Regions from separate parts of the Homo sapiens genome. Here region 2 is linked to region 1. The links come from fine-mapping of genetic effects on gene expression. A gene starts in region 1. The other region holds a variant in brackets. All regions are shown on one strand. Distances are from middle to middle.

Evidence for each region. PIP is the estimated chance that this variant, and not a neighbour inherited with it, causes the effect. A credible set is the group of variants that fine-mapping cannot tell apart.
Region 2: its variant is the best candidate, but not a certain one, in a credible set for the expression of SPATA2L in amygdala (GTEx, PIP 0.50).

The regions. Positions count from the first base shown.
Region 1 is chr16:89,696,962-89,706,006 of GRCh38, forward strand. SPATA2L (spermatogenesis associated 2 like) reads right to left here and starts at 4,744. Exons shown (of 3, transcript NM_152339.4): 1 at 4,667-4,744; 2 at 3,969-4,272; 3 at 1-1,344. The coding sequence starts at 4,271. The coding sequence ends at 373. RefSeq lists an enhancer at 2,482-3,347 and silencers at 4,350-4,449, 4,620-5,339.
Region 2 is chr16:90,081,365-90,090,732 of GRCh38, forward strand. No RefSeq gene overlaps it. Among named protein-coding and RNA genes, the nearest start is that of PRDM7, 8.7 kb to the left of the region's middle. RefSeq lists enhancers at 540-1,195, 994-1,123, 1,196-1,850. The variant G/A (reference allele first, on the strand shown) is at 4,752.

The sequences.
Region 1 (9,045 bases):
CGTACTCCGTACTGCAGGGAGCAGGCCAGGAGCCACGGGCCTTGGGGCACAGGGTCCTTCTCAGGGACAGGTTCAGGCACTGGCTGGAACAGGCTGGACCCCTCTACCCAGCACATGTGGGCATGCGTCTGGGTTCCGAGGGTGGGGAAATGTGGAAAGGCTCCTGCTGGCCGGCTTAGGCCTGCTGCCCTTGGAGCCTTCCATATACAGAGAGTCCCACCTCCAGCAAGGGTTGGCCTGGACTCTCCAACCCCCTGCTGTGCCCAGGACTCCCCCAGGGACAAGGCAACCAGAGGCCCAGACCCCTCCCCAGCAAAGAGAAGCACCACGGGAGCTGTCTCCCAAGAGCCCTTGACCTGGGGCCCAGCTGGCCTAGGGCCGGGCCCCGGGGCTGTTGTAGAGCAGAGTGTCCATCTGTGCACGCTGTAGCCACAAGCGCCGCTGGGCGTCGCCAAGCAGCACACGCAGCGAGTGGCCTGGACGGCAGGCGGGCAGGGCTGCACAGTGGGCAGCATGCAGCTGGCGACAGGTGTCGCAGCAGAGGGTGGGCAGGGCGCCAGGGGACAGGCAGCTGTGTGCCTGGTAGCCTGGGGGCTCCGAGACAGACCTATAGGCTGAGGCTGGTACCCCCTCTGCCCGAATACGCCTCGGGCTGGCCGCTGCAGAGCTTTCAGGGGTGGCCAGGTCCCCAGGCCTACTCAGCTCACGGCGCAGAGAGAGGAAGGAGAAGGCGGAAGGTTCAGGTTCCAGCCCCTCCTCCAAGGCCCCATATGGTGGGCTGCTGGCCTGCGGCAGCTCCTCAGCTGGGGGCTCCCAGGCCCGGCCCCCAGTGCCCCACAGTTTGGCACTCTGCTCCCAGAGTGGTGGCCTGTAGGCCAGCTCCGCCGGGGGCGAGTCAGGGCCTGGTGACGGCTCCCCATACAGGCTGGCGTCCTCCGACCCCTCGTCTTCCTGCAAGTCCCGGTATAAGTCCAGTGGGGCCCTGTAAGCAGCAGGGGAGCCTCGGGGGGGCAGGGGTGGCGGCTCCTCATCCTGGGCCAGCCGCTGCTGCAGCCAGGCCACACAGGAGGCCACGTCCCCGCTGGCACGCCGTGCCTGCAGCAGCTCCTCAGCTGGCAGCACACTGGTGCCCAGCTGGGCCAGCACCTCACCCAGGATCTCACACTCCAGCCGGAGGGCGAAGCAGCCCAGGGCCACCTGCACCAGCTGGCAGGCGGGGGGCAGGGCGGTCACCATGAGCCGATGGCTGTCTCTGCGTACGTAGCCCATCTTCTGGAAGCTCTTCAGGAGGAGGTCGTCTGAGAGCACACCCTTCAGCACGTGCACGTAGCCCCCAGAGAAGGTCTGCAAGGGAGCGGCCAGGTCAGTGACTGCCCACCCTCCCATAGGCCAGACCCTAGGGTACAGTGGGTCCGGGATCTGTTGGCTCAGGCCTTGGCAGCTTCTGATGCTCAGACCCAACCCCAGAGACTAGGCTTAGCCAGCTTGGGCCAGGCCCAAACATGATGATTTCTTTTTTTTTTTTTTTTTTTTTTTTTTTTTGAGACAGAGTCTTGCTCTGTCATCCAGGCTGGAGTGCAGTGGCTCCATCTCAGCTCACTGCAGCCTCTGCGTCCCAGGTTCAAGCAAGTTCCCCTGCCTCAGCCTCCCGGGTAGCTGGGACTACAGGCGCCCACCACCACACCCGGCTAATTTTCATATTTTTAGTAGAGACAGGGTTTCACCATGTTGGCCATGCTGGTCTCAAACTCCTGACCTCAAGTGATCCGCCTGCCTTGAGCTCCCAAAGTGCTGGGATTACAAGCGTGAGCCACTGTGCCCGGCCTAGAATTTTTTTTTTTTTTTCTTTTTTGAGACAGAGTCTCGCTCTGTCTGGAGTACAGTGGCACGATCTCGGCTCACTACAACCTCCTCCTCCCGGGTTCAAGCGATCTTCCTGCCTCAGCCTCCTGAGTAGCTGGGATTACAGGTGCGCACCACCACGCCCCACTAATTTTTGTATATTTAGTAGAGACGGGGTTTCACCATGTTGACCAGGAAGGTCTTGATCCCTTGACCTCATGATCCACCCACCTTGGCCTCCCGAAGTGCTGGGATTACAGGTGTGAGCCACCGCACCTGGCCGAATTTCTTAAATTTAATGGAAAAAACAATGAATACATTAACCTAGCTCACAAATCAGAACAAAATGAAGAGCCCCTGTACTGAGAAATTCCACTGTCTTCTGTCCCACCGCTCCCTTCACCCCTGGAGATGGCCTCATCTAATTAGTTTTGAATGTACTTGCCCAGGTGTTTGTTTTGCAAACCCAAATACAGATTTCGTTTGCTCCTCGTATGAGGTAGTCCCCCCTTTTTTTTCACCTCTTTGTAAGGTCTCTAACCAAAGCTAGACAGGTAGCCTCTTAAACGTGTTGTTCTGAACTTTGTTTTTTTCCACTACAGTCTTGCAGACAAGGACAGAAGCTGTAACGTTCATTCCCCCTGCTGTGTAGTATTCCACCATGGGGGTGACACGTCTGTTTTCAGCGCTCTCCAGAGGCTGTCCATGCACTGGGCTGACAGCCGTGGGACGGTAGAAGGGTGAGTGCTCTTTTTTTTTTTTTTTTGAGACGGAGTCTCACTCTGTCACCAGGATGGAGTGCAGTGGCTCGATCTCTGCTCACTACAACCTCCACCTCCCAGGTTCAAGTGATTCTCCTCCCTCAGCCTCCTGAGTAGCTGGGATTACAGGCGCGTGCCACCACACCCAGCTCATTTTTGTATTTTTTAATAGAGACGGGGTTTCACCATGTTGGTTAGGCTGGTGTCAATCTCCTGACCTCGTGATCTGCCCACCTCGGCCTCCCAAAGAGCTGGGATTACAGGCGTGAGCCACCGCGCCCGGCCTGGCTGAGTGCTTTCTAGCCTACACTTAGGTGAAGAACTAAAGGAGCTCAGGACAATCACTGCGAGCGTCTCCTGACTCTCAAATTCCCTAACTCCGGGACTCCTAGCATCTAATGCCTGGACACGGCCCACGTGTGGAGCGCCCAGTGCCTGCAGCACTGAGCTCGGGGCTTTGATTCATTCCTCTGGCCCCATGAACTGGACTGTTCCCGTGTCGCTGTCTCAGGAGGAAAGGGGCTGACAGAGATTAGCTAATTTGGCCAAGTCCTCGCGGCCAGGAAGCAGCAGAACTAAGTCCAAACCAGGGCTGTCCGGCACTGAAGCCGGTTATTCCCCCGCCCCGCCCCCTGGGAGGCCTCAAGGGCGGGCCTGTCCGTCCTCTCTCATGAATGAAAGTCCTGGCGCCTCCGACCAGCAGGTGTCCCCGGGGAGCCGCGGAGAGACTGCCGCTGCCATGGCAACCGGCGGAGGCGTAGCTCGCCCACGTGCCCAGTGACGTCATCGGCTTCCTACTCTTCCGAATTAGCTCAGAGCTCCCGGCGGCCCTGCCCCCTCCTGCCGCCAGGAGCTCACCTGGAGAGGCCAGGCCAGCCCTGGGCACAGCCTCCCGCCCCAGGCCGTGGAGTTCACTAGGTCTGAGCCCAGCCCTGAGACTTCACAGGGATGCACCCATCTGCAGTCCTCCCAGCCTCGGCGGCCTCCTCTGCAAATGGGATTGGCCCATAACCTGGAGGAATTAGGATGACCATGGGAACTCAAGTCCCTTCTGTGCCCCCGTCCTAAGATTTCCATGGCAACTGGGGCCGCGAGGCCTCTTAGGGAAGACACTGACGCAAGCTCTCAGGGCAGGACCCCGTAGGCAGCACCCAAGCCTGCCCTCGCCCACCCCATGTTCTCAGCCCTAGGAGTGGGTGCCCCCACACGCCCACGACCCCTCAGCGCTCGGAGCCTTGAGGAGCCCACCAGGCACTGAGGACACTTGAAGCCCCTCTCTCTCGAAAGGCGTGGTCCCCCATGGTCGGCGGCCCCGCGACCCGCAGGCCAGGACGAGGGGCGCGCTCCTCCTGGCCTGGCGCCTACCTTGATGGTGGTGAACTCCTTCCTCCAGGGCAGCAGGTACAGGTGCACCGCGGCGAGCTCCAGAAGCTCGAAGGCGCGAGCCAGGCCGCGTAGCGCGGGCGCCAGGTCGGCGCGGCCCCACAGCCCGTCGGTGAGCAGAGCCAGCGCGTCGTCCTGCAGCGCCCCGTGCAGGTCGAAGTCCTCCACCAGGATCTGCCAGAGCACCGCGCGCAGCGAGGGGTCCCCGCACACGCCCGCGCGGCCCCGTCGCAGCTCGCGCTCCAGGCACTGGCGGTAGTCCTCGGACAGCGAGCTGCTGCCCATCCTGCGGCGGACGGGGGTCGGGGGGGTCAGGGACCTAAGGCCGCGCCCAGCCCGCCGCGCTCTCCCCGAACCCTCACCCAGCGTCCCCAGGACCCCTCGAGCCTGGAGACCCCGCCCCCAGCGGCTGGGCGCCCCCGGTATCTTCGGCACCCCCTACGCTGGAGACCTCGGCCCCATCAGCTGCCCGCCCACCCAGCGATCCAGGCCCCTCCAGTTGAGCGCCCCCGCACCTCCAGCCCCTCCCTCCAGCCTGGGTACCTCGGCCTTCCAGGGGCGCCCCCGGTTATCGACCGCACCCTTCTCTAGAGACGCGCTTCCGCCCGCTGAGCCCTCTCCCGACCAGAGCCCCTTCGCCCGGCAGATGGAGCTGCGGATCCCGCGGGTGACGGCGCTACCTGTCTGTCCCCAGCGGTCTCCGGCCGCCGCGGATCAGTTCGGGCCTCCCCGCGCGCCGCGCGCTTCCGCCGGGAGTCGGCTCCGCCCGGGGTCCGCGGCCGTGACGCTGGGGGCGGGGCGGGGCTTGGCGCAGGCCCCGCCTCCGAATAATTTAGGAGGGGCGGGGCCTGGTGAAAGGGGAGGAGGAGGTGTCAGCCCGGCCGAGCCCCTGCGCGAGGCACCCCGAGAGCCTCCTGTCACCGCGTCGCCCGTCTCCTCGCGGGACCGGTATCGTTCACGACGCCGCTGGGCCGAGGGCTGCGGGCTCATGGCAGGCGCTCAGGGAACGTTGTGCCTGGGCCGCTCCTCCCCACGAGACAGGGACCCAGCCCCAGGCGACCCGGCCGCGGGGAAGCAGGTGCGCGGGCTCGTCCCCTGGGGGGTGGGGCCACCGGCATTACCTGGCGGGGATTGGCTGGATCCTGGGAAGAGCCTTTCCTGCGGGGCGGGGCCACCTGCATTACCTGGCGGGGATTGGCCGGATCCGGGGGCGGGCCTCCCCTGTGGGGCGGGGCCATCCCCTTGAGGGAGGGGCCCGCGGCACGGAAGGTGGGCGGAAGGACAAGCCTTTCAGCCTCGTCTGAAACAGCAGCCTCAGGTGGATGCGGGGACCTCAGATTCTGTTTATGCTGGCTCCGCTTCCCGGCCTCCTGCACTTGCCATCTGCAGCCCTTGAGAGCATCGTCTGGGCGGGTCTCTGAGGCAGGGCGAAGCCGCCCCCCTCTCTAGGCTAAAAGCTGACCTGGGCTGCGGATCCACCCAGGCTAAATCTGGGCCACGACTTCCCGGGGACGTTTTCTTCGCTCGGGTTCCTCTGTTCTGTGCTACAGCCACTTTCTCGCATTGCCCAGAAGTAGAGGAGGATGAGGGAGACCCTTGGAGGTCCCAGCCGAAACCCACCCCTACCCCACACCCCCGCTTTGGGCAGGCTTTGCTACTTCACGTCTGTGTCCCTCATCTCTCCAGGCCACCAAAACCAAGGCCCAAGTTTGTTGAAACTTTCCCTGGGCCTGGGCGGCGAGGTCCCCCCTTTTTCTTAGATTTTTTACCTGGAAGTTCCCTGCTGGCATCTTAGAAATAGTGATCATGACCGGGTGCGGTGGCTCACGCCTGTAATCCCAGCACTTTGAGAGGCCGAGGCGGGCGGATCACCTGAAGTCAGGAGTTCAAGACCAGCCTGGCCAACATGGTGAAACCCCGTCTCTATTAAAAATACGAAAGTTAGCCGGGCGTGGTGGCACATGTCTGTAAGCCCAGCTACTTGGGAGGCTGAGGCAGGAGAATTACTTGAACCTGGGAGGCAGAGGTTGCGGTTGCAGTGAGCTAAGATCGTGCCACTGCACTCCAGCCTGGGTGACAGAGCGAGAATGTCTGGAAAAAAAAATCGTGATGCAGTCGGTGGATCTCCCTGAGTTATCTAGGTGGCCACCTCTGGACAGGGAGCTCTTTTACTTACTGTTTACTGAACTCACTCTTGGTGCCCAGTGCCACCATGGGTCCACACCAGTCCTCAGGACAGCTAACTTCGTAAGTCTCATCTTTATTCTTCTTCTGATGCGGAGGAGGGTGGAGGTAACTGTTCTGCCTTTGTCCTCACTGAATTTGGCAACACCAGTCCATCCATCCAGCAGTGGGCCTAGCTCTCCTCCCATAGGCCTGGGTGGGTTTTTGCACCTGCCTCAACCCATGGAATAGAACTGATGTGGAATGAATTCCAAGGCTAAATCATAAACATGCCATACCCTGGCCTTGTCTTGAGATCCTTGGCCTCTGACATGGTTTGGTTCTGTATCCACACCCAAAATCTCATCTTGAATTGTAATCCCACAGGTCTGGAGCAGGACCAGGTGGAGATAATTAAATCTTGGGGGCAGCTTCCTCCATGCTGTTCTCGTGATAGTGAATTCCACGAGATCCGATGGTTTTATAAGGGGTTCTCCCCTTTGTTCAGTGCTCATTCTCGCTCCTGTCGCCCTGTGAGGAGACGCCTTCTGCCATGATTGTGAGTTTGCTGAGGCCTTCCCCAGCCATGCGGAACTGTGAGTCAATTAAACGTCTTTTCTTTATAAATTATCCAGCCTCAGGCAGCTATTTACAGCAGCATGGGGACGGACTAACACACCCTCAGAACCCAGCCACTAGAGTGAGAAGGCCACGGCCGTGTGCAGAGCTTTTGGCCTGCAACTTCGACCTGCGACTCACATTCACCTGCAGCCTATTCTTGGGACTTTTTTGGAAATAGTTTTTCCAGACAAAAATCAAGATGAGTTTGTTCTGGGCCGAGCGCAGTGGCTCACGCCTGTAATCCCAGCACTCTGGAAGACCGAGGCAGGTGGATCACGAACTCAGGAGATCGAGACCATCCTGGCTAACACACTGAAACCCCATCTCTACTAAAAAATACAAAAAATTAGCTGGGCGTGGTGGCGGGCATCTGTAGTCCCAGCTACTCGGGAGACTGAGGCAGGAGAATGGCGTCAACCCAGGAGGCGGAGCTTGCAGTGAGCCGGGATCGCGCCACTGCACTCCAGCCTGGGCCACAGAGCAAGACTCTATCTCAAAAAAAAAAAAAAAAAAAGGATGAGGTTGTTCTGGGTTGGCATGGGCCCTCAATCCAGTATGACTGCTGTCCTTATGAGGAGAGAGAAACTTAGATATGAACGCACAGGAGAGAAGACCGCTTAAAGACGGAGGCAGAGTGGAACGAGGGTGCCGTGAGCGAAGGTAACACAGCTGTGTTAGAGCCACCAGAAACTGGAGGCAAACAGAATTCTACCCTAAAGCCTCCAGAGGGAGTCAGCCCTGCTGACAGCTTGATTTTGACTTCAGGCCTGCAAGATGGTGAGAGAGAACATTTCTGTTGCTGTAAGCCACCCATTTTGTGGTCGTTTTGGCAGCCCCTGGCAACACATCCAGTCCTCACGTCGTCGTTCCGACAGCCCTGAATGAGGTCCCAGCCGACAGCTGGCACCAACCATAGACAGCAGACAGCTCTTCGGATGAATCCAACCCCTGGTCATTGGGTTACCACCTAGAAACAGCCTCCCATGATGCTGAGGAGCCATCTGGCTGATTTTTGTACTTTTTGTATTTTCAGCAGAGACAGGGCTTCACTATGTTGGCCAGGCTGGTCTCAAACTCCTGACCTCAGGTGATCCACCTACCTCGGCCTCCCACAGTGCTGGGATTGCAGGCGTGAGCCACGGTGCCCAGCCTAATTTTTAACTTTTTAGTAGAGAGGGGGGCCTTACTATGTTGCCCAGGCTGGTCTCAAACTCCTGGGCTCAAGTGATCCCCCCGCCTCAGCCTTCCGAAGTGCTGGGATTCCAGGTGTGAACCACCATGCCTGGCGTCTTGAGTATTTAAGCCCCTGAGTTGGGGTAGTTTGTTAGGCAGCGGTGGCTACGTGGGCTGTACACATTCACGGCTCCCTCCCTTCCTGCCCGGGGATGGACACTCCATGAGCTGCCGTGTGGATTCTCCGTCCTTCCCTGCCCTCCCGGGACAGACACTCCATTGCCTCCACTGCATATACATCCTCTAAAACCGGCAGCAGCCTTGCCAGGTCGGAGGTTCCGTCCACACTTACCTGGACTCCAGGACTGCACCTGGTCCCCTGGGGCCACTGCCGTGTCCACCCCACAGTGTGCGTGAGCTCCCTCCCCCTCCTGTACTCAGCATCGTCCAGCTTCCTCATCTTCTCCGGTCCAATGGATATAAGGTTACATCTTGTTTACTTTTCATTTGATTTTTGTTATGATTTGGACACTGCTTATGCAGAATAGTTTTATTTTTATTTTTTTTTAGATGGAGTCTCGCTCTGTGCTCAGGCTGGAGTACAATGGCGTGATCTCGGCTCACTGCAGCCTCTGCCTCTCAGGTTCAAACAATTCTCCGGCCTCAGCCTCCTGAGTAACTGGGACTACCGCCACCACGCTCAGCTAATTTATGTATTTTTAGTAGAGACGGGGTTTCGCCATGTTGGCCGGGCTGGTCTCGAACTCCTGACCTCAAAAGAGCCGTCCGCCTCGGCTTCCCAAACCGCTGGGGTTACAGGCATGAGCCACTGCGCCCAGCCATTACTTTTTATTTTATTTTTATTTTTTGAGACGGAGTTTCTCTCTGTCGTCCAGGCTGGAGTGCAGTGGCACGATCTCAGCTCACTGCAACCTCTGCCTCTCAGGTTCACGCCATTCTCCCGCCTCAGCCTCCCGAGTAGCTGGGACTACAGGTGCGGGCCACCACGCCCGGCTGATTTTTTGTATTTTTAGTAGAGACGGGGTTTCACCGTGTTAGCCAGGATGGTCTTGATCTCCTGACCTCGTGATCCGCCCACCTC
Region 2 (9,368 bases), 380 kb after region 1:
TCTTTCCCCATTGAATTGCGTTTGCCCCATGACAAAATCAGTTAACTGTATTTATTCGGGTCTTTTGGGTTCTCTATTGTGTTCCATTTATCTTTTTGCTTATTCCGTCACCAATATCACTCTTCATTACTTTAGCTTTGTGGTAAAGATAACAATAGTAAGTTATTGTTTCTAAACGAGGACTATCTGCATTTATTTATATATTTTTTATTCCTCTCAACCATGATTCAGTTTCCTGAATGCATATTTGTTTGTCTTTTGTTAGATTTATACTCAATGAATTGAAATTTTAAAGAATATCATTTACAATAGCACACCCAAAATTTAATTCATTAAATTCAAATTATTCCTATACATTATTGGTGATATAAAAAAATCAGCTAGGGCTGGGCGCGGAGGTTCTCGCCTGTAATCCCAGCGCTTGGGTGGCTGAGGCGGGAGGATTGCTTGATCCTTGGAGGCGGAGGCTGCAGTGAGCCAAGGTCATGCCACTGCCTCTCCAGCCTGGGCTACAGAGCAAGCCTCCGTCTCTAAAATAAGAAAGAGAAAAAGAAAAAGAAAATCCATTGACCTTTGTCTACTGGCCATCTATTTTACTTGTTAAAAATCTCCATGCGTTCTGATCAAGGCATGTGATGGTGGGCTCGATTTCAGTTGAAATTTCCAAAATCATGGCCCGGAGTAATCTGGAGGCTGAATTTCAGAGATTCCCGAGGGCTGCCGCGAGGGGGCGCCCAGCCCCTGCTAAACCCGAGCGCTGCGCGCTTGAGCCGTATCTGATCCGCAAGGCGGCGTTGCGGGGCGTTTACCGTGAGGACAGAGCTTCCTCCCTCAGGACGCGGCTGGGAGAGGCTGCGGCCTCGGGAGACATGGGGACACTTGGGGCCGCGTCCACAGTGAGACAGGGAGACGCTGCTGCAGCTTCGGGACACCTGGGGCCGCCCAGGCGAAGATGAGGAAAAAGCTTCCTGTTGCCGTTGAGTGTAGCGGCGGGAGCGCGGCCGTGTTTCCCTGTCCGCCGTTTGTAGCAGGACCTCACTTTATATTAATAAAAGCGTCCCCTCATGAGGGCTTGGGCTGGTCACCCCCAGCGCAGGCCAAGATGCAGGTTATGGATGTGAGTTTGTTTCTGGGGAGAGACCCTGGTACCGGGAGAGGAGACGCGGTCAGGAGGCTGGGGACGGGAAGGCGCCACAGCCTGAGGCCGAGAAAACAGGCGCCCCCGGATCAGTGCTCGTTTTTTTTGGTTTGGTGTGTGTGTGTGTGTGTGTGCGTGTGCGCGTGCGCGTGCGTGTGTGTGTGTGTTTTGAGACCGAGTTTCGCTCTTGTTGCCCAGGCTGGAGTGCAGTGGCGCCATCTCGGCTCACTGCAACCTCCGCCTCCCAGGTTCAAGCGAGTCTACTGCCTCAGCCTTCCGAATAGCTGGAATTACAGGGACCCGCCACCACGCCCAGCTAAGTTTTTGTATTTTTAGTAGAGATGGGGTTTCACTATGTTGGCCAGGCTGGTGTCAAACTCCTGACCTCAAGTGATCCACCTGCCTTGGCTTCCCAAAGTGCTGGGATTGCAGGCAGGCCTGAGCCACCATGCCCTGCTGCTTTTTTTTTCTAAATTAAAAAAAATTTTAGGCTGTCTTTGCTTTGATAAAATACATAGGAGTATTTTGTGTGAAGTTGCTGTAACTGCTGGGGAATCTAAGAGAAGGGATAAGTTAAACTTTGCTATTGCAATAATCCTAGAAGAAGGAAATTATTGTAAATTATAAACAACCACATTAATACCTTGTCAGTAAAGCAGAGACATCAAACTTCATTATAGAGGCCAAACCAATCCAAATCCAGGTCAGTGGAAGCTGTGTACCAAGCGCCCTGCTGTCATGTCAGTATTGCGGCTGTCATATCAGTATTACAGGTGTCATATGAGTCTTAGGGGTGTCATAGTAGTACTGTGAGTGTCATCAATATTGCGGGTGTCTTGTCTGTATCGTGGGCGTCATATCACTGTTGCAGGTGTCCCATCAGTCTTATGGGCATCATATCAGCCTTATGGGTGTCATATCATTATTAAGGGTGTCATATGAGTCTTAGGAGTGTCATGAATCTTGCGGGCTTCACATCAGTTTTAAGGGTGCCATAGCAGTCTTGCCGGTATCATCTCCATTGTGAACGTCACAGCAGTGTTGTGGGTGTCATATCAGTATTACGATATGCCATGATATGTTATACCAGTATGACACCTCTTCTGAAAACAGTCATACCTAGACATAGTGCTTTGTTTGTTTGTTTGTTTGTTTGTTTGTTTGTTTTGAGACGGAGTCTCGCTGTGTCGCCCAGGCTGGAGTGCAGTGGTGTGGTGGAGTGGTGTGATCTCTGCTCACTGCAAGCTCCACCTCCCGGGTTCATGCCATTCTCCTGCCTCAGCCTCCTGAGTAGCTGAGACTGTAGTCTCAGCCACCATGCCCGGCTAATTTTTTGGCATTTTTAGTAGAGACGGGGTTTCACTGTGTGAGCCGGGATGGTCTTGATCTCCTGACCTCATGATCTGCCCGCCTCGGCCTCCCAAAGTGCTGGGACTACAGGCCGGGAGGCGGAGGTTGCAGTGAGCCGAGGTTGCACCACTGCACTGCACTCTGGGTGACAGAGCGAGACTCTGTTTTGGGGGAAAAAAAAAACTCATACATGGAAAATTCCAAAACATTGCTGAAATAAATTCAAGAAAACTTTTGGCGGAAATTCACAAGCTGATCCTATCATTTATATGAAATTTCAAGGGATGCAGAATAACCAACATAGTGTCAAAGAAACCAACTCAGAGGCTCACATTTCCAAATTTCAAATCTTACTACAAAGCAACATTAATAAAAACAACATGATTTTGGCATCATCAATGGAATAGATCAATGGAACTGAATTCTGAGTCCAGAAATAAACCCATACTCCTATGAGCAATTGTTTTATTTTTTGAGGCAGGGCCTCACTCTGTCTCCCAGGCTGGAGTGCAGTGGCACAATCATGACTCACTACAACCTCTATTTCGTGGGCTCAAGTGATCCTCCCACCTCAAACCTCCCAAGTAGCTGGGACTAGAGGTGTGCACTACCACAGCTGGCTAATTTTTTTTTTTTTTTTTCAGGTAGGGTCTTTCTCTCCTGCCCAGGCTGGCCTCAAACTCCTAGCCTCAAGTGATACTCCTCTCTTTGTCTCCCAAAGCACTGGGATTACAGGTGTTAGCTACCATGTCCAGCCTGCTGATTTTTAAAAATGGAATTTCTTTTTCCTTTCTTTTTTTCTCTGGGCATGGTTTTGCTCTGTTTCCCAGATTGGAGTGCAATGGTGCGAACGCAGCTTATTGCAGCCTCAACCACCTGGGCTCAAGCAATCCTCCCTCCTCCGTCTCCTGAGTAACTAGGACTACAGACATGCACCACCACACCTAGCTAATTTTTAAGTTATTTGTAGAGAGAGGGTTTCCCTGTGTTGCCCAGACTGGCCTGAAACTCCTGGGTACCCAGTCTCAGGTATTTATAGTGATGGGAAAAAAGCTTAATACAGAAAATTGGCACAAAGGAGTGGAAAATTGTTATAAGAATACCTGAAAATGTGGAATCAGCTTTGTAATTGGGTAAACAGGCAGAGGTTGGAAGAGTTTGTAGGATTCAGAAGAAGACAGAAAAATGAGGGAAAGTTGAGATTTTCTTAACTTTGAATGGCTTTGACGAAAATGCTGATAGTGATTTGGACGGTGAAGGCTGAGCTGAGGAGGTCTCAGATGAAAATTAGAAACTTATTAGGATCGAAGCAAAGGTCATTCATGTTGTCTTAGCAAAGTGGTTGGCTGAATTTCTGTCATGCCCTAGGGATATATAAAAGTTTGAATTTGAAAGTGATGATTTAGGGTTTCTGTTGAAAAAATGTCTAAGCACTAAAGCATTGAAGATGTGGCCTGGCTGCTTCTAACAACCTATGCTCACATGTTGGAGCAAAAAAAAGTAAGTTGTAATTTATTTTTACTTGCAAGGGAAGTATAGCGTAAAAGCTTAAAAACTTTGCAGCCTACTCATGTGGCAGAAAAATAAAAAGCTTTTACAAGAGAGGAACTCGAGCAGGCTGTGGAGCAATCACTTGTTAGAGATATTTGTATAACTTAAAAAAAAAAAAAAGCAAGTGTTGATAGCCAAGACAATGGGGAAGAGGAATTGAAGGCATTTTAGAAATCTAAAAGGCAGCCCCCCATCACAGACCCTGAGGCCTAAAAGAAGAGAATAGTTTCTGGGATCAGGCCCAGGAACTGCTGCCTTGGGTAGCCTTAGAACATGGCTCCCTGCATCCTGGCCACTGCTCCAGCTCCAGATGTAGCACAAATTGGCCCAGTTAAAACTCCAGTCACTGCTTCAGAGGGTGCAAGCCTTAAGCCTTGGTAGCTTTCATATGGTGTTAGGCCTGTGAGTGTACAAAATGCAAGAGCTGAGACTTGGGAGCCTCCACCTTTACTTCAAATAATGTATAAAAAAGCTAGGGTGTGCAGGCAGAAGCATGCTGCAAGGGTGGAGCCCTCATGGAGAACCTCTACTAAAACAATGCAGCAAAGAAATGTAGGGTTACAATCCCCATGTGGGTTCCCCACTGGGGCATGGCCTAGTAGATCTGTGAGGAGAGGATCACTGTCCTCCAGATCCCAGAATGGTAGATCTAGCTACAGCTTGCACTTTGCACATGGAAAAGCCAGAAGCAGACAAAACCAGCCAGAGGCAC[G/A]CAATACCAGCCCATGAGAGCAGCTGTGGGGGCTGAACCATGCAAAGCCACAAGGTCTAAACGTCCCAAGGCATTAGTGTGCCCTGGAAATGGGACATAGAGTCAAAAATAATTATTTTGGAGCCTTAAAATTCAATAACTCCCCTTCTGGGCTTCAGACTTGTATGGGTCCTGTGGCCTCTTTTTTTTTTAGCTGATTTCTTCCTTTTAGAATAGGAGTATTTACCCAATGCCTATGCCCCATTTGTATCTTGGAAGCACTTAATTTGTTTTTTATTTTACAGGCTTATAGGAAGAATAAACTAGCTTTGTCTTAGATGAGACTTTTGACTTTTGAGTTAAGGCTGAAATGAGTGAAGACTTTGGGGATTATTGGGATGTCATGATTATATTTTGAAATATGAGAAGGATATGAGATTTGGAATGGCCAGGGGCAAAATGATATAGTTTAGGTGTGTGTTCGCACCAAATTCTTATATTAAAATGTAATCCTCAATGTTGGAAGTGGGCCTAGTGGGGAGGTGATTGAATCATGAGGGCAGGATTTCCATGAACAGTTTGGCATCATTTTCTTTGGTGCCATTCTCACAATAGTAAGTTTTCATGAGAGCTGGTTATCTACAAGTGTGTAGCACTTCCCCCCACCCTCACACTTACCATGTGATGTGCAAGCACCGGATTTATTTTTCACCTTGATTGTCAGTTGTCAGAGGCTTCACCAGAAGCAGAAGCCAGTGCTATGCTTTCTGTACAGCCTGTAGAACCATGAGCCAATTAAACCTATTTCCTTTATAAATTAACCAGTCACCGACTGTTTTTACAGCAATGTGAGAATGGCGTAATATTTCCGTCAAAAAACTGTTAGAAGTAATAACTTGAGTAAATTTGCAGAATACAAAATTAACATATACAAATCAGTAAGATTTCTATATGCCAACAGTCAACAAACTGAAAAAGAATTCAAAAAAGTAATCCTATTTGCAATAGCCACAAATAAAACAAAATGTGTGGGAATTTACCAAAGAAATAAAAGTTCTCAACAATTAAAAATGTAAAACACTGATAAAAGAAATGAAAGAGAAGACAAAAAAATGGAAAGTTATTTCTATGTTCACAGATTGGAAGAATCAGTATTTTAAAAAATGTCCATACGATCCAAAGCAATCTATACATTTCATGCCATCTCTATCAAAATAACAATGACATTCCTCACAGAAATAGAAAAAAAATCTGAAATATATATGGAACCACAAAACACCATAATAGTCAAAGCTATTCTGAGTATATAAACTAAAACTGGAGGAATCCCATTACATGGTTTTAAATTGTACTATCAAGCTATAGTAATTAAAACAGCATGACACTAGAATAAAAAGACATAAAGACAAATGGAATGAAACAGAGAACTTAGAAACAAACTCATACAGCTAAACTAATTTTCAACAAAATTGTCAATAACATACAACAAAAAACAAGACAGTTTCTGTAATAAATAGGGCTGGGAAAACTGGCAAGCCATAGGCAGAAGAATGAAACTAGAACCCTATTTCTTGCAAAATACAAAAATCAAATTAAAATGAATTAAGGACTTAAACCTAACACCTCAAACTATCAAAATTTTACAAGAAAACACTGGGGAAACTCTTTAGGGCATTGGTTTGGGCAAAAATTTCTTAAATAATGCCCCATAAGCACAGACAACCAAAGCAAACATGGACAAATGGAATTACAGCAAGTCAGAAAGCTTTTTTAAAGTGAAGGAAACAATAAACAAAGTGAAGAGAAAACCCACAGAATGGAAGAAAATATTTGTAAATTACCCATCTGAAAAGCAATTAATAGCTACATGATATGGTTAGGCTTTGTGTCCCCACCCAAATCTCATATTGAATTGTAATCCCCAGGTGTTGAAGGAGAGACCTGGTAGAAGGTGATTGGATCATGGGGTTGGTTTCCCCCAGGCTGTTCTTCTGATAATGAGTGAGTTCTCATGAGATCCGATGGTTTTATAAGGGGCTCTTCCACCTTTGCTTCACATACATGCTCTCTCGCCTGCCATCATGGAAGAGGTGCCTGCTTCCCGTCTGCCATGATTTTAAGTTTCCTGAGGCCTCCCCAGCCATGTGGAACTGTGACTCAGTTAAACCTATCTCCTTTATAAATTGCCCAGTCTCGCCAGGCGCAGTGGCGCATGCCTGTAATCCCAGCACTTTGGGAGGCTGCGGCGGGTGGATCACGAGGTCAGGAGTTCAAGACCAGCCTGGCCAAGATGGTGAAACCCCATCTCTACTAAAAATACAAAACTTAGCTGGGCATGGTGTTAGGTGCCTGTAATCCCGGCTACTCAAGAGGCTGAGGCAGAGAATTGCTTGAACCCAGGAGGTGGAGGTTGCAGTGAACCGAGATCATACCAGTGCACTCCAGCCTGGGCGACAGAGCAAGACTTCATGTGAATACATAAATAGATAAATAACCCAGTCTCAGTTTTTTTATAGCAGTGCAGAAACAGACTAATACACTACAATATATTGAAGTGAAAAGCTGCTCCACATTACTGATCATTATAGAAATGCAAATCAAACCCAAAATGAGATATCATTTCACCTCAGTTAAGGTGGCTTTTATCCAGAAGTCAGTCAAAAACAAATGTTGCTAATAGCCAAGATTTGGAAGAAACCTAAATGTCCATCAGCAGATGACTGGATAGAGAAAATGTGGTACATATATACAATGGAGTACTATTCAGCTATAAGAAAGAATGAGAGTCTGTCATTTGCAGTAACAGAAATGGAACTGAAAGTCTTTATGTTAAGTAAGTCAGGCACAGAAAGAAAAATGTCACATGTCCTCACTTATTTGTGGGTGCTAAAATTTGAAATAATTGATGTCATAGAGAGTATAAGGGTGGTTACCAGAGTCTGGGAAGGGCAGTGGGGGAACAGGGGGTTAGTGGGGATGTGAAATGGGTACAAAAAATTGTTAGAAAGAATGAACAAGACAGTATTTGATAGCACAACAGGGTGATTATGGTAAAAAAAATTTTAATTATACATTTTATAAAAACTAAAATAGTATAATTGGATTGTTTATAACACAAGCTATAAATGCTTGAGAGGACGGATACCCTGTTTTTTATTATGTATTACTCATTACATGCCTGTATCAAAGTATGTCATGTACCCCCATAAATATATACACCAACTATGTACCCATAAAAATTAAAAATTACAATTAAAACCAAAGGGAGGAGAGTCTAATGAGGCAGGTGTGACCCATGGCTTGAACTAGCTTTTCAGGGTAACTTTGGAACGTTTTTATCCAAGAAGAGGGGTCCATTTAGTCAATAGGGGCTTAGAAATTAATTTTTAGTTTGTAAGTGGAAAAAAGAGAATTTTTAATCCTGAGCCATAGCTCTCAGTCAGTCAGTCCCTGCAGGGAACCCTGTTCTTTACTCTGGAGATAAACACTATTTTTCTTTTCCACTGAATAACACCACATTTCAAAATGAGGGGAAACATCTTGAAACTAAGAGGTATGGCCTTATTAAATTTGATTTGGTTTCCATTGTAATTAATTTAATCACATGTGTTCTAGAGTTTGTCCTCAGTCTTCTACTTTAGGCTCATGATCTGTTGAATTTGCTCAGCTCCCTGCTCAACAGCAGGAAATCAGAATTATTTAAAAGCCTCATTGTGGCTGGGAGCAGTAGCTCATGCCTGTAATCCCAGCAATTTGGGAGGCCAAGGTGGGCAGATCACTTGTTGTCAGGGGTTTGAGACCAGCCTGGCCAACAGAGTGAAACCCCATTTCTACTAAAGATACAAAAATTAGCTGGGTGTGGTGATTCATGCCTGTAATCCCAGCTACTTGGGAGGCTGAGGCAGGAGAATCACTTGAACCTGGGAGGCGGAGGTTTCAGTAAGGCAAGATGGTGCACTGCACTCCAGCCTGGGCAGTAGAACAAGACTCTGTCTCAAAATAATAATAATAAATAAAAATAAAAATCTCATTGTGTTTCAAACAAAATTTCTTTTGCATATCAACTGTGTCAGCTTGCATATTAACTATAATCATTTTGTTTACTTTATATCCAATCTTGAGAAATCTCTGAGGACTAATTTCACTCTTTTCTGCCATTTTGGTAAACATACCAAATGCCATCAAATAAAATGCACAAAATTCCTGAGAAATACATTTTCTCCTTGAGGAGTAGACTTGCTGTGTTAGAGGAACTCATGGTTATCAAGCTTCCAGTTTAATAAACATGACTAGAATTCTCTATCTTAATATGAGTAGCTAGGTACTCACAAGGCATCTAGAAGGTTAATACCTATAGTCTGAAAATAGCCACATTTTTTTACTGGCCACAAATTACAATTGCAGAATATTTATGGCCATACAAGACATCTTCCACCAAGCCTGAAAAATGTATAAATATCCTAGGAGTGCAGCATTTTTTGTTAAAGATAATATTAATGAGCTAGCTTAGGTCAACGGGTTAATGGTCATCGTTAAAACGAATAGACCCGACTTTAATGAGTACATCTGCACCTTCCAAGTTTAATTATAACTCTTTCTCTTTATAGTTAGAGTAGAGACACTAACAAAAGACAATGC